Regions from separate parts of the Homo sapiens genome. Here regions 2, 3 and 4 are each linked to region 1. Evidence: fine-mapped expression QTL. A gene starts in region 1. Each other region holds a variant in brackets. All regions are shown on one strand. Distances are between the middles of the regions. Region 1 holds the start of GLDC (glycine decarboxylase). Region 2 overlaps GLDC (glycine decarboxylase). Region 3 overlaps GLDC (glycine decarboxylase). Region 4 overlaps RIC1 (RIC1 partner of RAB6A GEF complex).

What was found.
Region 2: its variant is fine-mapped to the expression of GLDC in whole blood (TOPMed, PIP 0.99).
Region 3: its variant is fine-mapped to the expression of GLDC in lung (TOPMed, PIP above 0.99).
Region 4: its variant is fine-mapped to the expression of GLDC in whole blood (TOPMed, PIP above 0.99).

What each region holds. Positions count from the first base shown.
Region 1 is chr9:6,643,666-6,648,815 of GRCh38, forward strand. GLDC (glycine decarboxylase) reads right to left here and starts at 2,064. Exons shown (of 25, transcript NM_000170.3): 1 at 1,580-2,064; 2 at 949-1,027. The coding sequence starts at 1,834. RefSeq lists enhancers at 1,274-1,831, 2,812-2,921, 2,972-3,071, 4,058-4,613, 4,614-5,150 and silencers at 1,512-1,581, 1,622-1,821, 1,892-2,141.
Region 2 is chr9:6,619,719-6,624,868 of GRCh38, forward strand. It overlaps GLDC (glycine decarboxylase), which reads right to left. Exons shown (of 25, transcript NM_000170.3): 3 at 466-601. Among named protein-coding and RNA genes, the nearest start is that of GLDC, 23 kb to the right of the region's middle. RefSeq lists an enhancer at 3,190-3,985. The variant C/A (reference allele first, on the strand shown) is at 2,648.
Region 3 is chr9:6,597,396-6,602,545 of GRCh38, forward strand. GLDC (glycine decarboxylase) reads right to left here. Exons shown (of 25, transcript NM_000170.3): 8 at 4,714-4,810. Among named protein-coding and RNA genes, the nearest start is that of GLDC, 46 kb to the right of the region's middle. RefSeq lists an enhancer at 1,053-1,292. The variant C/G (reference allele first, on the strand shown) is at 2,410.
Region 4 is chr9:5,695,506-5,700,655 of GRCh38, forward strand. The region is part of intron 3 of RIC1 (RIC1 partner of RAB6A GEF complex); the gene reads left to right. Among named protein-coding and RNA genes, the nearest start is that of INCR1, 68 kb to the left of the region's middle. RefSeq lists an enhancer at 1,677-1,796. The variant A/G (reference allele first, on the strand shown) is at 2,727.

The DNA.
Region 1 (5,150 bases):
AAATTCTAAGAAAGTCTATGACTAAACTGACCTTTCTTAAACAAATGTAAATCTTATTTGTGTGTTTTTCTAGAAAAACCATTCGGGGTAGGGCACAGTGACTCGTGCCTGTAATCCCAGCATTTTGGGAGGCCGAGGCAGACGGATTGCCTGAGGTCAGGAGTTCGACACCAGCCTGGCCAACATGAAGAAACCCTGTCTCTAATAAAAATATAAAAATGAGCCTGGTGTGGTGGTGCGCCCCTGTAATCCCAGCTAGTCAAGAGGCTGAGGCAGGAGAATTGCTTGAACCAGGGAGGCGGAGGTTGCAGTGAGCCGAGATCAAGCCACAGCACTCCAGCCTGGGCGACAGAGATTCTGTCTCAAAAAAAAAAAAAAAAAAAAACGAAAAAAAAAAGAAAAGAAAAGAAAAACCATTCGGACTCGAAAAGTACTGCTGTCTTTCAGTTGGTAAATAATAAAATTTGGACGTGAGGTAAGAAAACAATTGGAAGATACTGCGATCTAAAGAAGCCTGGGGGAGGGAGGCGAGATGTCTGGTCACTTCCCCAGTTGCACGACCTTAGGCAATTCCTAGATCCTTTGAGTCTATCCGGGTCTGCGCAGGTAATGACACCTCTCAACCCAAAGTATGAGAGCACCCTGGCCGGTGAGAGGGTGCCTGGGAAGTGGGGAATCTGCTACAAAACGCAGGGGAAGCTCGCGGGGGCCCTAGGATAAAGACCAAGAACCGCACAACACCGACTCTCTCCTAACACAAAACTGTCTGCTCCGAGAACCAAATATCCCACCTTCCCGCGGCTCCGGAGGTACCCGCCACTGTTTTATTTTAATCCACACATTCCCAGTCCTGAGCAATCCTTACCCCAGAGCTCGATTTTCAGGGAACCACAAAAGACAAATAGGCCAGAATAATCTAAGTCCAAGGGAGCCCTCCCGGCCACTTACAAACAGGGTCTTCCATTTTCAAGGGTCTTTTCAAACGGATGTTGGCAGGGACCGTCTTCTCGATCAATTCATCAATGCTCTAAAATTAAAACGCAAGGCAGAGGAAAGTGCCTCTGAGTTAAAAGAGTCACCTCTGTGTTTTGCGACTACAAAGCCTTGTGGGAACCTCATTGAAATCGCCTAATTAGGGTTCTTTTTAAAAGAAAAGGAAAACTCTGAGCAAGCCAGAATGATTTGGAGGAAAGAAAATCGTGAAGTGGGGTGGAGATTCCGCCACTCGGGGTTGGATTTCAGTTGCAACCGGAGCTAACCGGTAAGCCCACTCTTAATCAGGGGGTCTTCCTCCTCTTGCAAAGTTTAGGTCCATCCACAGGGCCACTTGGGCTGGGGGTGGTTTAAAAATGTACACTTTTGAGGCACGAAGACTGGGTGCAGGAGAAAGTAAGCTGTTAAGAAGTAAGAAGGCACGAGGACCAAAGGCACGAATTTGCTTCCACGCCACGGCCCGGGACCCAGGGTGCGGGGACCACGCGGAGCGCAGCAGAGCTCAGGGTAGGAGCCGGGAGGCCGCGCAGGCAGAGCCCGGGCAGGGCGGAGGGGAGGCCGCGGAGGGCCGGGTGGAGGTCCTTACCGCCAGCCCCAAGGTCTGCAGCATCTCTCTCTGGTCTTTGTCCCCAGGGCCGATGTGCCTCCGAGCGAAGTCGTCGTGTCTGGGCAGAAGGCGCTCCAGGAGGCGCGAGGCCCCAGCCGCGGCGCTGTCCCCGCCGCCACTGCTGCTGTCCCGGCTCCGCGGCGCCCAGCACGGCCCCGATCCCCCAGCCAGGCGGCGGCCGCCCCCGACCCCGCGGCCCAGGCGCAGCCCCCACGCCCTGGCACAGGACTGCATGGCCGCGGCCACCGTCCCCTGCCCCGGCCCGCAAGGGTCAGCCGCGCTCTTGGCCCCTCTCCTGGCCTCGGTCCCCCGGGTGGCGGCTGCGCCCGGCCTGGAGCCCCTTTCGCTGGACAGTCGGCCGGACAGATGGATGGACGCTCGCGGGCAATGAATGGGCGCTGCGCTCAACCAAGACACTCGCGCAAAGTTGTGGCTCCACCCAAGGCACCTGCTCCGCACACTTTAAGCGGCGCCCTGGAGGCGGGAGGTGGGTTGGGGCCAGGAAGCCCTTGGCCAATGAAAGTAGACAGAGGGGGAGGGGGCGGAACAGTTCCCGCCCCCGCCCCCTCTTCCTACCCTCTTCCCAGCCCTTCCGTGGAGTCCCGCTTCCCCTGGACCGGAGGCTGCCATCTCCAGTCCTACCCACTCCGACGCTGGCTGGTGCCGGGGGCCGGGACGCTCCGTACGCCGCCCGCCAGGGTGTGGAGCCGCACTGGGGCAAGATCAGGTGGGACAGCCCAAAGACTCCGGGCCAAGTTCCTGGGGGACTCGGCGGAGATGGAAGATGATTCTCGAAGCTCTCCATTTCCTTAATTTTGAGGTATCTTTCTCTGTCACATTTCATCTCAGGGAAATTAATATGGGCAGATGGCGGTTCTTTTATCTTTGCGGGAGCGTGATAAAGTTACTCAACCTCTCAGAGCTTCAGTTTTCTCATCTCAACAGAGCTGGATGGGATTTTAAAAAGAGATTATATGTACATGGAAAGCACTTGAACAGTAGATTTGAACACCCTCTCTATATTTCTTTTCTTTTCTTTCTTCCTTCTTTCTCCTCCTCCTCCTCCTCCTCCTTCTTCTCACTCTCTCTCTTTCTCTCTCTTCCCCCCCACCACATGTAACGCTATGGCTCACGCCTGTAATCGCAACACTTTCGGAAACCGACGCGGTAGGATAGCTTGAGCCCAGGAGTTCGAGACCAGCTTGGGCAGCATTGTGAAACCCTGTCTCTACAAAAAATACAAAAATTAGTGGGGCGTGGTTGCGTGCTTCTGAAGTCCCAGCTACTCTGGAGGCTGAGGTGGGAGGATTGCTTGAGTCAGGGAGTTTCAGGCTGCAGTGAGATGTGATCGCACCACTGCACTCCAGCGTGGGCCACAGAACGAGACTCAGGAAAAAAAAAAAAAAAAGAACTGTGTGTGTGTGTGTATATGTTTTTTTAAATATATGTACTGTATATACATATACGTGTGTGTGTAAAACTACAAAGGATATTTTGTTGTTGTTTTTGAGACGGAATCTCGCTCTGTCGCCCTGGCTGGAGTGCAGTGGCGCGATCTTGGCTCACTGCAACCTCCACCTCCCGGGTTCAAGCGATTGTCCTGCCTCAGGCTCCTGAGTAGCTGGGACTACAGGCACGTGCCACCACGGCCGGCCATTTTTTATTTTTATTTTTAGTAGAGACGGGGTTTCACCGTTTTAGGCAGGATGGTCTCGATCTCCTGACCTCGTGATCCGTCATTACAGGCGTGAGCCACTGCGCCCAGCAAAAGTACAAAGGATATTAAGATAGACATTGTTCACTGTCGTCTTACTTTGAAAGTTAGCCATCTAGAACTGGATTTTTTGTAAATGTACCATCTCCAGCTGTCTCATGACAGTTTTAGCAAGAGAATGAACTTTTAAAATTCCAGTTGTTCTAATATGGGGAAGAGAGGACAGAAGTAATCAGAACATTACTTGTACTTAGACTAGGGGAAAATAAAACCTGTTCTCTTTCTTGCTTATCTGCTAAGTTTCCTCCTCCAATCACCCTTAACAGATTCTGGGCTCCGTACCCAGGAGGCACAGACTATCCAGAGAGGCAGGAAAGTAGAGATGGAAAAGAGGGCAGGAAAATACACCACAAAGAACAGTAGGTAAAATGTCTGTATGGCAGACGGAGGCGGGTGGTGAGCTAGGACGGCTGGGCTGAATGTCTCCGAAAAGTTTTTCGGCCATTTGGAATTGAAATTACAACCTTCATAAAAGTTGGGAGATCTCCTCAGTGCCAGATGGTGGGGGTTGTGGGGAAGGATTGGAGGGAGGAGGTAATCTGCATTTATTCCTATTCCTGTCTATGTTGTTTCTATGTATCAGAGGGACTGGAAGCCAGGGAACAATAATTCCCAGATCCCTTTGGCTCCGTGGTGATGGATGTTATTTGCCTTCTGCCAAAAAAAAACATGTATATATACACACATATATGTATATGAGAATTGGGGCCGGGTGCGGTGGCTCACTCCTGTAATCCCAGCACTTTGGGAGGCCGAGGCGGGCAGGTCACTTGAGGACAGGAGTTCAAGACCAGCTTGGCCAAGATGGCGAAACTCAATCTCTACTACAAATATGAAAAAAAATTTAGCCAAGTTTGGTGGGCGTGCTTGTAGTCCTAGCTACTCAGGAGGCTAAGGCATGAGAATCACTTGAACCTGGGAAACAGAGGTTGCAGTGAGCGGAGAGCGCACCACTGCACTCCAACCTGGGTGATAGAGCAAGACTCTGCCTAAAAAAAAAAAAAGAGAGAGAGAGAGAATTGGGAAATGGAACAAAGGTAAAAACTGTTTTCTTATTTTCTGACTGCAGCAGACAGATGCATGGACCACTGCAGACATGACATGCTTCCTTACCAGCACCCCATCTTGAGGTAGCTGGGAAGCTGTATCCACCAATGGGAATGTCCTGCAGTTCCCCAGCAGGAATTTCTGTGTACTAGACTAGAGCTTCAGTGGTTGACCTGAAGATAGCGTTGGTATTCCCTGGTTTTTGCTCTTCCAGTTCTTCCAGTGGTTTTGTATGCACCCATTCCTGACATTTAATTCTCCTCTGCTTGAAATGCATTGAGTGTTTTTTGTTTATTTGTCTGTGTGATGTTGTGAAATACATATCTGGTATTCATCCCATTTCCTGGCCTGCAACTCCTAAAGTCTTGGGAATCTCCAGACTCCTGCCTTTTTGTATGCTAATGTGACTAACAGCTTCAGAATAGGGCTGGTCACTGGAAAGACAAAGACATAATGGGAGTTGAGACTTTCAGCCCCACCCTCAACTTCTCAGTAGGGCAGAGGGTCAATGATCAATGCTTAATCAATCATGCCTTCCTAATAAAGCCTCTATAAAAACCCAAGAGCCGGACGTGGTGGCTCATGCCTGTAATCCCAGCACTTTGGGAGGCCAAGGCTGGCGGATCACTTGACGTCAGGAGATTGAGACCAGCCTGGCCAACAGGGTGAAATCCCATCTCTACTAAAAATACAAAAATTGGCCGGGCGCGGTGGCTCACGCCTGTAATC
Region 2 (5,150 bases), 24 kb before region 1:
CTCCGTCTGGGCAGGGTGGTAGGCGGGGAATCCTGAGAGAAGACAGTGGACCAAGATTCTCTCCCAGACTCCACCAATGACTCAATGAGATAGCTCAGAAGTAGCCTATGTCCCAGGGTCTCCAAGGAGGAGTAAAGGCCTGAATCTGCCCACCTGCAGGTTTCACATCTTACTCAAATACAGCACAGAAATTAAGCTGCAGAAGAGGAAGAGATGACCAGATCCACAATTTAGCATCCTAGTAGATTTTATGGGACTGGAAGTGGGAAGAAACTTCTATTTCCTCAACATTTGAGCAAGAACATTTCTCGATCCAGAGAAACCCGGTAGGTTCCCGGACATTGGAGACAGCACTAGGAGGTGGGTGTCAGTGTGGAGGCTCTGAGACTGCAAGGGGACAGATGGAGGATGGAGAGAATTATGCAAATCACAGTCATCCTGTTCCTGAACTGAGAAATACATTACCATCCTGAGTTCTCCAGTAAGTTCCGCAAAATCGTCTGTGGCACTGAGCAGTTATAATAGCCCATGCCAATATACGATCTCCAGATCTGGTTTTTGCTTGAAATGGCATGCAGAGTTGCAAGGATTTCATTTTCACCTAATTGTGGGAAAAAGAGAAATGTTACAGACAGATGTCTCAGAAAAGAGCTCTAATTACAGTTTAAATCCCTCATTTTGTTTGAGTATTTATGACAGAATAACTATATGGAAAATGTAAGAGTCATCCATCCAACCAACACTAAGTACTGTATGCGACATCTCAAAAAAAAAAAAAGTCCCCAAACAACACTCAATTTCTCCTCAAGGTTGGCCCCCCCATCACTGTTTTGACTGTTCCTTATTCGGTTCTGTTTGCTAGAACTGCCCATTTTAACACTTGCCTCATTCCAGGCTTTTTCTGTTCCCTTTCTATTTCTGCTGTATATACGCTAAATAAAAATTCTGTCTTACTCCCAGTAAAATACTGTGTTTTACCTTCTAAACTGCCTCATACTCTCTGGAAGTAGGCACAGCTTCAGTCTAATTAACACATAATCTACATTTTCTCTAAAATTGTTCTACTCAGTTGCACATTCCTCCTTTGTGTCACTGAAAGGGCAACTTATAAAAAGGCCATCACTCAACAATAGAAAATATCAGTTGTAATCAAAGACCCTCATGCAGGGCTGTGAACAGTGGCTCACACCTGCAATCCCAGCACTTTGAGAGGCTGAGGTGGGCGGATCACCTGAGGTCAGGAGTTCAAGACAAGCCTGGGCAAGGCGGTGAAACCCCGTCTCTACCAAAAAAGGCAAAAAATTAGCCAGGCATGGTGGTTCACACCTGTGGTCCCAGATTCTTGGGAGGCTGAGGTGGAAGGATCACATGAGCCTGGGAGGCAGAGATTGTAGTGAGCTAAGATGGCGCCGCTGCACTCAAACCTGAGTGACAGAGTGAGACCCCCATCTCAAACAAAAACAAAAGCAAAAAAACACACCCTTATGCAGTTTCTACCAGCATTCTCATGAAGGCACTTTGGTTATTAAGAAGTATAAATGTACTTGGATGCAGGTGGGACCCTTTCTCGGGTCATTCATATAATCACAAAATAATAATAGCATTTGACATTTATTGAACATTATTCCACCAGGAATTGTACCATATGCTTTTCGCACAGCCTAGGGTACTGAGGATTGAAGACGGTCACTTGGCTGAGGTCACACGACTTTAAATTAAAGGATTACTAATCCAATCTCACACTTTAACTCACTGGACTAAGTTGAGAGCTGCTACATGGACAGCTCTTATACTGAAGGGTCCTTTTTTGTTTTTTTGAGAGGGAGTCTTGCTCTGTCACCCAGGCTGGAGTGCAGTGGCTCGATCTTGGCTCACTGCAACCTCCACCTCCCAGGTTCAAGCGATTCTTCTGCCTCAGCCTCCTGAGTAGCTGGGACTACAGTCGCACATCACCACACCTGGCTAATTTTTGTATTTTTAGTAGAGATGGGGTTTCACCATATTGGCTAGGCTGGTCTCGAACTTCTGACTTCGTGATCCGCCCACCTCAGCCTCCCAAAGTGCTGGGATTACAGGCGTGAGCCACCGCGCCCTGCCACTGAAGGGTACTTTTTAGATAGAAATGACATCATTTGGTTCTTTCTTTACCTCTCTGCATAGAGATAGATCATGCTACTAAAATTTAACTGGGATTTAACTACTTAGGCAAATGGCTGTCTTCTTTAAGATCTTCTTGGGGACTCAGTCACTTAACCCTGGGAATTGATTATTTTATTTTTCCTCTATCAGAGAAAAACGTAGGTAAAGCAAAACCTAAGACAGCAAACTGGCAAGGAAGACACTTAACATTGTTTTAACCCTATTGAACTCTATCTGAATATTATTTGCATCAATCTTTATCCTCAAGTAAAATACTTTCACCCTCCACCACACACACACAGACACACACACACACACACACACACACACACACTCCGCACTCCACATGCTTTCCCAGGAAATAAATTCACAAGAGATATGGTCCCCCTCCCCCTCCCCCTCTCCCCACGGTCTCCCTCTCCCTCTTTCCACGGGCCGAAGCTGGACTGTGCTGCTGCCATCTTGGCTCACTGCAACCTCCCTGCCTGATTCTCCTGCCTCAGCCTGA[C/A]GAGTGCCTGCGATTGCAGGCACGCGCCGCCACGCCTGACTGGTTTTCGTATTTTTTTGGTGGAGACGGGGTTTCCCTGTGTTGGCCGGGCTGGTCTCCAGCTCCTAACCGCGAGTGATCCGCCAGCCTCGGCCTCCCGAGGTGCCGGGATTGCAGACAGAGTCTCGTTCACTCAGTGCTCAATGGTGCCCAGGCTGGAGTGCAGTGGCGTGATCTCGGCTCGCTACAACCTCCACCTCCCAGCCGCCTGCCTTGGCCTCCCAAAGTGCCGAGATGGCAGCCTCTGCCCGGCCGCCACCCCGTCTGGGAAGTGAGGAGCCTCTCTGCCTGGCCGCCCATGGTCTGGGATGTGAGGAGCCCCTCTGCCTGGCTGCCCAGTCTGGAAAGTGAGGAGCGTCTCTGCCCGGCCGCCATCCCACCTAGGAAGTGAGGAGCGCCTCTTCCGGGCCGCCATCCCATCTAGGAAGTGAGGAGCGTCTCTGCCCGGCCGCCCATCGTCTGAGATGTGGGGAGCGCCTCTGCCCCGCCGCCCGGTCTGGGATGTGAGGAGCACCTCTGCCTGGCCGCGACCCCGTCTGGGAGGTGAGGAACGTCTCCGCCCGGCAGCCACCCCGTCCGGGAGGGAGGTGGGGGGTCAGCCCCTGCCCGGCCAGCCGCCCTGTCTGGGAGGTGAGGGGCGCCTCTGCCCCGCCGCCCCTACGGGGAAGTGAGGAGCCCCTCTGTCCCGCCACCACCCCGTCTGGGAGGTGTGCCCAACAGCTCATTGAGAACGGGCCATGATGACAATGGCGGTTTTGTGGAATAGAAAAGGGGGAAAGGTGGGGAAAAGATTGAGAAATCGGATGGTTGCTGTGTCTGTGTAGAAAGAAGTAGACATGGGAGACTTTTCATTTTGTTCTGTACTAAGAAAAATTCTTCTGCCTTGGGATCCTGTTGATCTATGACCTTACCCCCAACCCTGTGCTCTCTGAAACATGTGCTGTGTCCACTCAGGGTTAAATGGATTAAGGGCGGTGCAAGATGTGCTTTGTTAAACAGATGCTTGAAGGCAGCATGCTCGTTAAGAGTCATCACCACTCCGTAATCTCAAGTACCCAGGGACACAAACACTGCGGAAGGCCGCAGGGTCCTCTGCCTAGGAAAACCAGAGACCTTTGTTCACTTGTTTATCTGCTGACCTTCCCTCCACTATTGTCCTATGACCCTGCCAAATCCCCCTCTGAGAGAAACACCCAAGAATGATCAATAAAAAAAAAAATAAAAAAAGAGAGAGATATGGTACTTTGCCACAGTAGAGTAAGGAAAGAGAGTCTTGAAGTTATTAGTTTCATGAGTAATATAATCTAACTACCTTATGGAAGATGATCTTGCCTTCTTCCATTGAAAGTTTAGGAAATAAGTAAAAATGCAATAAACCCACATCTGAGAAGATAGGCAAGGACAACATCCCTAGGAACAATCATGCAAAAAGTCCAATCACCTCCCAAATAATCTTCTTAGGGGCAGAATGATTCAGACGCCCAGTAGGAGGAAAGATTAATTAGCAGTGCCTTGTAGGCGAGTCCGGCTTCAATTATGATCCTGTGCAGGGGGGACAGGTCCCTGTTCTGCGTTGGTCCAGCTCTCCAATGACAACAGTCTGTGAAGGGCTCTGTCTGTCAAACTGAGTTTAGCCTTTGGAAATAAAGCTGGATAGTATGATTCTTTTTACAATACAGTAAGATAATTCTACTGATGGTGTGGAAAGGTCACTGAGGGGAGACCCCGGCCCAGGGAGATACAGTAAGAGGCCAGCACTATAGTCCAGGAGGGAGATGGATAAGAGGAGTGTTACAAGTTGAATTGTGTTCCCAAAAATGATGCTTTGAAATCCTAACCCCATGGTACCTCTGAATATAACCTTACTTGAAAATAGGGTCTCCACTGATGTAACCAAGTTAAAATGAGATCATGCTGGATTAGGGTCAGCCGTAATCCAATGATTGGTGTCCTTATAAGAAGAGCAAAATTGGGACACACAGACACACATGCAAGAAGAATGCCATGTGATGATGGCAGCAGAGACTGGAGCAATGTATCCACAGGCCAAGGAACCTGGGAGAGAGGCAGGGAACTGATTCTCCTTCAGAGCTTCCAGAAATGAGCCAACCCTGCCAACATCTTGATTTCTGACTACGGAACTGGGAGTGAACAGGTTCCTGTTGTTTTAAGCCACCTAGTTTGTGGTACTATATTACATGGCAGCCATAGGAAACTAATTAAAAAAACTGTATCAGTCATTTTTAGGAGACACGATAATACTCTTGGGCCCAGCTGGCCAGTTAAAAAAGGCTCAGGTTGGTGGGGCACGGTGGCTTACACCTGTAATCCCAGCACTTTGGGAGGCTGAGGCAGGAGGATCACTTGAGGTCAAGGAGTTCAAGACCAGCCTGGCCAACATGGTGAAACCCTGTCTCTACTAAAAACACAAAAATTAGCTGGGCCTGGTGGCATGTGCCTGTAA
Region 3 (5,150 bases), 46 kb before region 1:
CTAATAAAGTGTAAATTATTCTTTACTACACCTGACTTTAGAAAAGCCAACAAGGCTGGATGCAGTGGCTCACACCAGTGATCCCAACACTTTGGGAGGCTGAGGCAGGAGGATCGCTTGAGGCCTGGAGATCAATACTAGCCTGGGCAACAAAGTAAGACTCCCATCTCTATTTTAAAAAGATTTTTATATTAAAAATAAGAAAAGCCAATGAAAGAGCTGCTCATTGTGGTAGAAGCTAAGAAATAAGAGAATATATGGCCGGGCATGGTGGCTAACGCCTGTAATCCCAGCACTTTGGGAGGCTGAGGCAGGTGGATCATGAGGTCAGGAGATCGAGACCATCCTGGCTAACATGGTGAAACCCTGTATCTACTAAAAATACAATAAATTAGCCAGGCATGGTAGCAGACACCTGTAGTCCCAGCTACACAGGAGGCTGAGGCAGGAGAATGGCGTGAACCCGGGAGGCAGAGCTTCAGTGAGCGAGATGGCGCTACTGCACTCCAGCCTGGGCGATGGAGCGAGACTCGTCTCCAAAAAAAAAAGAAATAAGAGAATATAAAGAACAGAACATAATGAAAATTCAGACATCTGTAGTAATGCCACAAATTTATAGAAAAAATTGTTTCTTTTCCTTTTTGTTTTGTAGAGGTGGGGTCTGATTCTGTCACCCAGGTTGGAGTGCAGTGGTGTGATTGCAGCTCACTGCAGCCTGGACCTCCCCAGCTCAAGCACTCCTACCACCTCAGTCTACTGAGTAGCTGGGATACTGGTGTGTACCACAACACCTGGCTAATTTTTGTACTTTTTTTATATAGACAGGAGTCTCACTATGTTGCCTGGGATGGATTTAAACTGCTGAACTCAAGTAATCCTCCTGCCTTGGCCTCCTAAAGTGTTGAGATTACAGGTGTGAGCCACCGCACCCTGTTTTTTCAGTTTTGTTTTAGAATGGGGCCTGCTGAGCCAGAATAGGCTCAGAGAGACTCCCTATAGAAAAATTTATTTAAAAAAGAATCATTAACACACTTTCAGAGATTAAAAAAGAGTCATGCCCCATCCACGATGCGAAACTAAGAGTGGACTCCCCCACCCACCCCAGTGACAAGAGAGAAGAGCAAGAGTGAGAAGAATGTGGAACAGCTGCTACAACAGAAGGCGGGGGTCAAAGACCTACAGCACAAAAGGAACAACTCAAAAGACACCAGTCATCTCCTAACAAAACAGGGAGACTTGCATGCTCACAAAGAGTGAAACTGGAGTTATGAGTAATTCTTGTATGCAATCAACTATGAAAAGGCACATATGCAGTGAAATAGACAGTGAAGAGTTAGAAGATCATCAGAATAAGAGGATGAAAATCAGACAAGCTGGAGTATGGCCATCTCCAGGGCAAACATTTTAACAATTGCTGGAAAAGATACAGACCTTTCAACCCAAGTTAAATAATAAATTATCAGCTATACATGAACTGGAAGAAATTAAGCAACAGGAACATAAGGCCGGGCACAATGGCTCATGCCTGTAATCCCAGCACTTTGGGAGGCCAAGGCGGGCGGATCACCTGAGGTCAGGAGTTCGAGACCAGCCTGGCCAGCATGGTGAAACCCCATCTCTACTAAAAATACAAAAAATATTAGCCAGGCATGGTCGTGGGTGCCTGTAATCCCAGCTACTCAGGAGGCTGAGGCAGGAGTATCGCTTGAACCCGGAAGACGGAGGTTGCAGTGAGCCGACATCACGCCATTGCACTCCAGCCTGGGCAACAAGAGAAAGACTCCGTCTCAAAAAAAAAAAAAAGAAAGAAACAGGAACATAACTGGTTCACTGCAGACAGCCCAAATTCACCTGGAAAATGAACCTAGAGGCAGAAAACTGAGGCCCTAAATGGACTTATGATCAGACGGAAACCTGGAGGAACCTGAGGAGAAACAGCAAGACAGGAGCAGTCAGCTGCACCGAAAGGGAAAACGTAAGCAGAGAATTCAACAAATGGAGGGTAAGCTACAGAAAGTGAGGCCACCATATAAAGATCACCATGTGGCCAGGCATGGCGGCTTATGCCTGTAATCCCAGCACTTTGGGAGGCCGAGGTGGGCAGATCATGAGATCAGGAGTTCGAGACCAGCCTGACCAACATGGTGAAACCCTGTCTCTACTAAAAATAGAAAAATTAGTTGGGCATGGTGGCAGGCGCCTGTAATCCCAGCTACTCAGGAGGCTGAGGCAAGAGAATCGCTGGAAACTGGAAGGCAGAGGTTGCAGTGAGCTGAGATTGGGCCGCTGCATGCCAGCCTGGGTGACAGAGCAAGACTCCATCTCAAAAAAAAAAAAAACAACCAAAAAAACAAATAAATAAATAAAGATCAGCTTGCTGTTCAACAGAGGAAAAGCCTGTGCCAACCA[C/G]CTTTCCTTCCTATCATACTGGAAGAGCTCATATTTGAAAAGAGGTGGCACCTTCCTGAGGCAAAACATAATACAAAAGGACCAACTGAGGAAATGGCTCCAAAGACCCGTGGCTGCAGAACCAACTATAAGAAGATCTTATTGCCCACTGCCTTCCTGGAGAAGCTTTTCAGAGGTGGTTCTAGACGCCAAAGCCCTGAGACGAAAGAGCACTCTACCTCCCATTGAAGCACCTGTGACATCTCTCTCTGACACTTCATGGAAGAGATGCAATTACAGTGGCCAGGCACGGTGGCTCATGCCTATAATCCTATCACTATGGGAGGCCAAGATAGGATCACTTGAGCTCAGGAATTTGAGACCAACCTGAGCAACAAAGTGAGACCTCGCCTCTACAAAACATTTTTTTGAAAATTAGCTGGGCGTGGTGGAATGTACCCATAGTCCCAGCTACTTAGGAGGCTGAGACCGGAGAATAATTTGAGCCCTGGAGGTTGAAGGTTGAGGCTGCAGTGAGCTATGGCCATGCCACTGCACTCCAGAATGGACAACAGAGCAAGAATCTGTCTCAAGAAAAAAAAAAAAAAAGAAGCCAGGTGCCATGGCTCACACCTACAATCCCAAAATTTTGGGAGGCCCAGGCAGGACCATCACTTGAGGTCAGGCGTTTGAGACCAGCCTGGCCAACATGATGAAACCTGCCTCTACTAAAAATACAAAAATTATCTGGGTGTGGTGGCCTGTAATTCCAGCTCTTTAGGAGGCTGAGGCACAAGAATCACTTGAACCCAGGAGGCAGAGGTTGCAGTGAGCCAAGATTGCGCCACCCCATTCCAACCTGGGTGACGCAGGAACAGGACTCTATCTCAAAGAAGAAAAAAAAAGAAGAAGAAAAAAAAAAAGAGATGCACTTAGAATGGATCCTGTGCTCAGGAGTGGGCCTCCAACTGATCCTAGGGTTTGGCTGGGTTTCACAAACACTTCGACCTAAGCCCTGGAGCAACTTCAAGGAGCAGAACCCAGAACCCTGGTCAGAACCCAGGAAGCTCTTCCTGTTTTATCCCATCCTTTTAAAGAATGCCAGACATGGCCAGGTGCAGTGGCTCATGCTTGTAATCCCAACACTTTGGGAGGCCGAGGTGGGTGGATCATGAGGTCAGGAGTTCAAGACCAACCTGGCCAAGATGGTGAAACCCCGTCTCTACTAAAAATGCAAAAACTAGCCTGGCGCTGTGGCAGGCGCCTGTAATCCCAGTTACTCAGGAGGCTGAGGCAGGAGAATTGCTTGAAACCGGGCAGCAGAGGTTGCAGTGAGCTGAGATTGCGCCACTGCACTCCAGCCTGGGCGACAGAGTAAAACTCTGTCTCGAAAAAACAAAAAAAAGAATGCCAGTCATAATCTCCCAGTAAGAGTGCCTCATGACTACCACCATCCCCTCAAGCACAGTCATCACAAATGCCCTTGCTTTGCCTTCCTCAACCCATTCCTGGAGAGGCTCCTTCTCAGTCCTAAGAGAGGGTGTCTCAACTGCCACCCATAACAAACCTGGCCCAACGCCAAGAATACTAGAGACCCTGATATCCATCTTTCTATTTACATATATTTTAAGTCTGTATATAAAAGTGAAGACTGGCCTTTTTTGTCCTTTCTTACGCTTTGCCTGTTCAGGATCTGAAGATGTGATTATGGGTAAAATGAAACAAATAATGCTTTTTATTTTTTTTAGTATTAAAACATGTATGGTGAAGAGAAAGCATAGGCAAATGGTGTACATATAAAGAACACCAGTAAAACACAGTGTCTTTTTCTTTAACTTTTTTTGTGGGGGCAGGAGTTGGGGACAGAGTCTCCCTCTGTCACTCAGGCTGGAGTGCAGTGGCATAATCATGGCTCACTGCAGCCTCAACCTCCCAGATTCTGGTGATCCTCCCACCTGAGCCTCCCTAGCACCTGGGACTACAGGAGCATACCACCACTGACGGCTAATTTATTTTATTTTATTTTTCATAGAGATGGTGTTTCGCCATGTCGCCCAGGCAGGTTTCCAACTCCTGGGCTCCAGCAATCTGCCTGCCTTGGCCTCACAAGGTGCTGGGATTACAGGCATGAGCCACCGTACCCAGCCAATACTGTATTTTGGTTCTCATAAGACAATGAGCCTTCTACACCAATAAGATCTTGCCATTTCTGGTGTGCTCACTGCTCAGGAGGTGGTGAATAAATGAACAAATGAATGAATGAATGAGTAGCTCATTTCTGTGTATCGTAAGGCATTCAGTAGTCAGGTCAGACGTGTGATTTACCTGAGCTGTACAGATGTTGCTGGTAGCCTTGTCTCTCCGAATGTGTTGCTCCCTGGTTTGAAGAGCAAGACGATACACTTCTTTCCCAGTGGCATCTCTACACCAAGAATAAGGCATCCAGTTAGCACAGATAATCACAGCACTGGGAGATGCTATAAATAGAATTACTTCTTTCCTTCCCAGCTTGAAGTGAATTCAGCAAATGCACTTGGGTGCAAATTTATAAAGAAACAATTTCTAAACGTTCCTCATCTAAACATGATTACTGATTTTTTTTTTTTTTTTTGAGACGGAGTTTCGCTCTTTCGCCCAGGCTGGAGTGCAATGGCGTGATCTCGGCTCACTGCAACCTCTGCCTTCTGGTTTCAAACGATTCTACTGCATCAGCCTCCTGACACCACGCCCAGCTAATTTTTGTATTTTTAGTAGAGATGGGG
Region 4 (5,150 bases), 950 kb before region 1:
CGTAATTCCCAATGACACTAGTTCAGTTTAGGTCTTGTCACTTTTCTCCTGGATTATTATTATATCTTTTTTTTTTTTTTTTTTTGAGACAGAGTCTCGCTCTGTCGCCTGTGCTGGAGTGCAGTGGCGTGATCTTGGCTCCCTGCAATCTCCGCCTTCTGGGTTCAAGCGATTCTCATGTCTCAATCCTGAGTAGCTGGGACTACAGGCATGCACCACCACACCTAGCTAATTTTTGTATTTTTAGTAGAGACGGGGTTTCACTATGTTGGCCAGGATGGTCTTGAACTCCTGACCTCAAGTGATCTGCCTGCCTCGGCCTCCCAAAGTGCTGGGATTTCAGGCGTGAGCCACTGCACCCGGCCTATTATGTCTTCTTAATGTCAGATTCATGTCTAAACCTCACTCACTTACCCCCTGCCAAGCCAAACATGCTATTGCTTTGCTAAACTTTTTTGCAGTTACCATCATCTTTTGTACGTTGTATGAGGTAGAAAACCTTTAATTCTTTGTTTCTTCCTCTGGATTGTTTCTTCACTTTACATATTTGTTCAGTCATCAAATTTTACTGATTGATTAGAGTTTTCCAGTGCCTCTGGAATTCATTTAACTCTATTTTACTCTCATTGGTCTTTTTAGGGGCCCTCATGTCCTCCTCCTTGTCTATTAAAAAAGCTTATTCACTAACTCATTTCTCTTCCCCTAGTCTCTTTCACCTACATAATGAAGTTTATCATTTGCATTGATAACAATTTTTTTTTTTTTCCAAAACGAAGTCCAAGCTCTCTGGCCTGGCATTTAGAACCTACTTTCTCCATATCTTGAACACATCGAACCCACAATTCCTATTTAATGCCTCTATTCCTTTGTTATTTGCTCTATTCAGTATGACTCCCCTGCTATCTTTTTTTATGTAAGAAATTTATCTGAGTTGGTTTTCAAGCTCAGGTCAGACATCTGTTGTACTCTATAAACCTTCTGCCCTCAACTCTCCTATATCCGCCCCTGTACCCAATAAATAACTGATCTGGCATGTGCATTCCCATAGTATGTTTTAAAAATTTACACTACTAATTCATCAATACCTTCTTACTTAAAAAAAAATCCAACAATGAGAGATCTATAAAGATAAAAAGTAAAAAAATGTGAACTTTGCTTTTTTAGATTCTAATCTCATTTCACTCTCCAGTTGTCCTGTATCTCTTGAGTAAATAAATACCTAGGAATAGAATTGCTGGGTCATATCACATGTCTAGTAATTTCAGATTGGATGTTAGATACTGTATTACATTATCCATTGTCTGATTTTTGTCCTTTTCCTTTAAAGAGTATTGAAGGTTGTTTTGGGTGGCAGGTAAGCTGCTTGGAGATCTTACTGATCTTTTGAGGCTTTTTGTATGTCTTTTAGGATGGATTTAACTGTTAAGCTAGCTTAGCCCTTCTGAAGTCCACTGAATGTCCTAGGTCTTTAAGAAGGTCTCTCCATTCTGGCTAGTCAGAACCGAAATGTCTCCCAGTCCTATATGAACTGGGTAGCCAAAAACCCTAGTAGTCATTCTTTGCCTGTATTTGTGGAGTGTCACTATGTATTTGGATAGTATTCAGTAAGACTCGGGAAACCCCTGCAGGTTTCTAGAGCTTTTCTCTGTGTGGCTCCCACATCACTGGTGCTCTGCTTCACAAATAGCTGCTTCTGCTTCTCTGAACTTTAATCTTTTTCTCCTCAACTTAACAAGGCTGCCATACTATGCTTGGTTTCTCTCACTCTACATGATGGACAAAACCTTAAGAGGTTAGATGGTGACTTCTGCCAGAAAACCTGTTTGTTTTCCTTCCCTCATGATATCAGTCCTGTGCTGCCTGCTGTCTCATGTCTGAATATGGTTGGTTGATCTATTTTGTCCAGTTCTCTTGTTTCTGGGCACTAGTTTGGTACCAGGTACTCTATTAGTAGAATAATAAAATGACCATCTGTGTGTCCATCAGTCAGTTTGAACAATTTTCAGTCTTTTTCCACTGGAGTATATTTAAGCACATCCAAGATATCATTATTTCATTTCATCCAAAAATACTTTTTATTATTGTAAGCATTCCAGTAAACAATGATGAATGCAAATGATGAAATATGAGGCCTGGAGTTTTAGGAAAAGAAATCGTTCTGAGCCTTTCCAGAATTATGGTTGGAGAACTAAAGCCTCTTAGTCCCAGAATTTACATAGGACTGCCAGAACTTTCTAGATCAAGCCTTGCACATTTCAGAATCATCTCAAATGGATTCATCCTCATTTATTGTATGCCTGCTATCTGTAAAACACTTGCTATACACTGCTACTGAAGATGCTAATGAATAATTGTTTAAAGTTAATGGCAATATAAAATAACAGATTGCCAGGTAAATATCTTGAAAAGTCATAATAGCATTTCAGGGTAAAGTGATTAGTTGTCAAGGGAAGTTTTGTAGATAAGGAGACTTGAGTTCTATACTTGGGAGAGAAGTCAGGACTTAGGTAAGTTATGTTGCAAGGAAAAACACTATAATTAATTGCATTCTTGAAGTTTCTGTTCCCCCACACCCCAAATCTATTAGGTTATTTGCCACATTATTCTTTTCTTTAGCTGGCACTTAAAGCATTTGGTATCTCCTGCACAGAAGAATTTGCTCAAAGAAATGGCTGTTGAATTTGTGAATCAGTTTTCTGTATCACCTGATCTAGCCCTCAAAGCAT[A/G]CTTGACATGCTTTAAAAGCAGTCTTCTTTTCTTTTAAGACTTCTGTGTAGTTTTTATGCTACACTTGGTATTGTGGTTTGATTTTTGGTTTTTACCAATTTGATGAGAAATTACTCCCCGCTCAGTGTCCTGGGAAGTTTGACTAGTGGTTGACCCATCCCATAGAAACATTTTATTTTTTTCATGGCCCTTTAAGGGCCACTCATTAACATGAATGCCTTATCATTCATTGGAATAGAAAACTGGGAGGCTTTACTTTTAGTTACAAAAGTTAATGTATGGAAAATACATTAATAAAACCGGCTTAGCTTCATTTTTCCTACTTTCTTGTGATATTTTTCTTAGACTTGCTATTGATACCTCAGATAAATATCCAGCAGTTTAGAGATGTGGAAAAAAATATGGCAGTTGGAATCAGAGAGGCCCAGGTTCCAGTTCAGATTCTGCTTTTTCCCAAGACTTTGGAAAAGCCATTTTCTAAAGTTGCTTTCTGTGCTGTGTGTCTATAAAATGAGAAAAATGAGTGATTAGATTCTTAATAAGTTGCAACTGGTATTGTTGTCTAGGTTGCCTTCTGAATTATGTAAATATAATGTGCCTCCATTGCATATTTATGACAATTTATAAGTGTTTAAAAAAGAAGGGGATTCTAGTTCATTAACTGCGAGGTTTTAGAGTGAACTAGAATTTGAAGAATGACAAAACTTTAAGAGGTTGCCAAAAAATACAGGTGTACTTGTTCAAAAGCAAGTCTCAGATTGAGTCATGTATCAAATGTAAGCAATAACAGACTTGACTCCTCTGGGGAACTTAGGCAGAGTATTCATTTATACAATACTTGAAAATTCCAAGTATTAACAAAGATAGCTTCTTTAATATAGCGAGAAACTCCTTACATCATATCCTTGAATAATGTCATAACATCGATGAGGGAAAAAAATTGATCCCTGGCCAGGGCCACTGTCAATATGGAATTTTCATATTCTCCCTATGTCTGTGTAGTACTGTAGTTTCCTCCCACATCCCAAAGATGTACGCTTTGGGTGAATCAGCATCTGCATGGCCCCAGTCTGAGCGAGTGTGGGGTATGTGTGTGAGTGCGCCCTCCAATGGAATGACATCTGGTCCAAGGTGGGCTTCAGCTTTGGCCCCAAGCTGCTGGGATGGGCCGTGGCCACCTGCAATTCTGAACTGGAATTAGTGGGTAAATGTTTTTATTCATCTTTCTTAAATGTATGTATAGCTTACATTTATTTCAATGTCTTTTTTTTTTTTTCAAAAAACTGTTTGTATATTGCATATATAACTAAAATATAAAAGCAACATTTTATAAAACTTTCTAGAGAGACAAATTCCACACAAGTGGTAAGGGCAACCTAGTGTCTCTAGATTTGTTCTGTTTCATAAATTGGATTTTAACAAATCCTATGTAAATCAATTTTTGTAAATAAAATGTAATTGTTGGATTTTTCACATGTTAGATTTTTGCAATAATCTGAGATTTACAACACTTTCTGATGTATGTTCACTCTGATTCTGAAACTAAATTATATTATTGGATTTCATATACAGTATTAAAATTAGTGGTGGTTTACCAAGATTAAACTTTAAAGCATATCTGAAAGTTATCTATCTGTAAATAAGACAAATTGTCTACAGAATTAGTTTTATATAGTCAGTGATGTGTAAACCTCTTGGCTTTAAGAACCACAACAACTTTGAATGCATTAAGAAAACTGTCACACAATTGATCCGAAACTGCATTAAGAAAAAAATTCCTACTTTTTTTTTTTTTTTTCCTTTCACTGGTTTCTTGTCTCTCAGGGTCATCGTTCCATGGGCTGTCCCCACCCAACCCCACCAAGTTTCCTTCATTGACATTTCTGTTCTTTCCTTCACAAATTCTGCCATGGCTTGTAGGGAGAGCACCTGATTAACCAATACTGAGCTGGGAATGACCGACACTTCTTAGCTAGTTCTATAAATTTTGTTAGTTTGTTTTTGTTAGCCCCAGTTAATCTCAAATAGATAGAAATTTAGAACATTATTGAGGGGATTATAATGGGATTAATCCCTTTTGCCTATCCCATAATGTATTCAGCTGTTTCATTTCTTTTTGTTCATTTGTGATTTTGTGTTTTCAAAGTAAAAAATCTGAATATTTATTTAGAGTTTACTTTGGATTAAAAATATTCAATTTATTAGAGCTTCAAAATAATAACTGTAGCTCAAACTTTTAAGTTCCATCTACAAATCTTAAAAATCTATTCGTAAATCTAGCAAATTTCAACACTTTTAGAGGGGAATCTTACAAATTAAATTCTCTTACGTATATTAATGTATATTTATAAATATGCCTTATAAATATATAATAAATTATATATTTTGTTTCTTCTTAAAATACTTGAATTGTCTAACAAGCT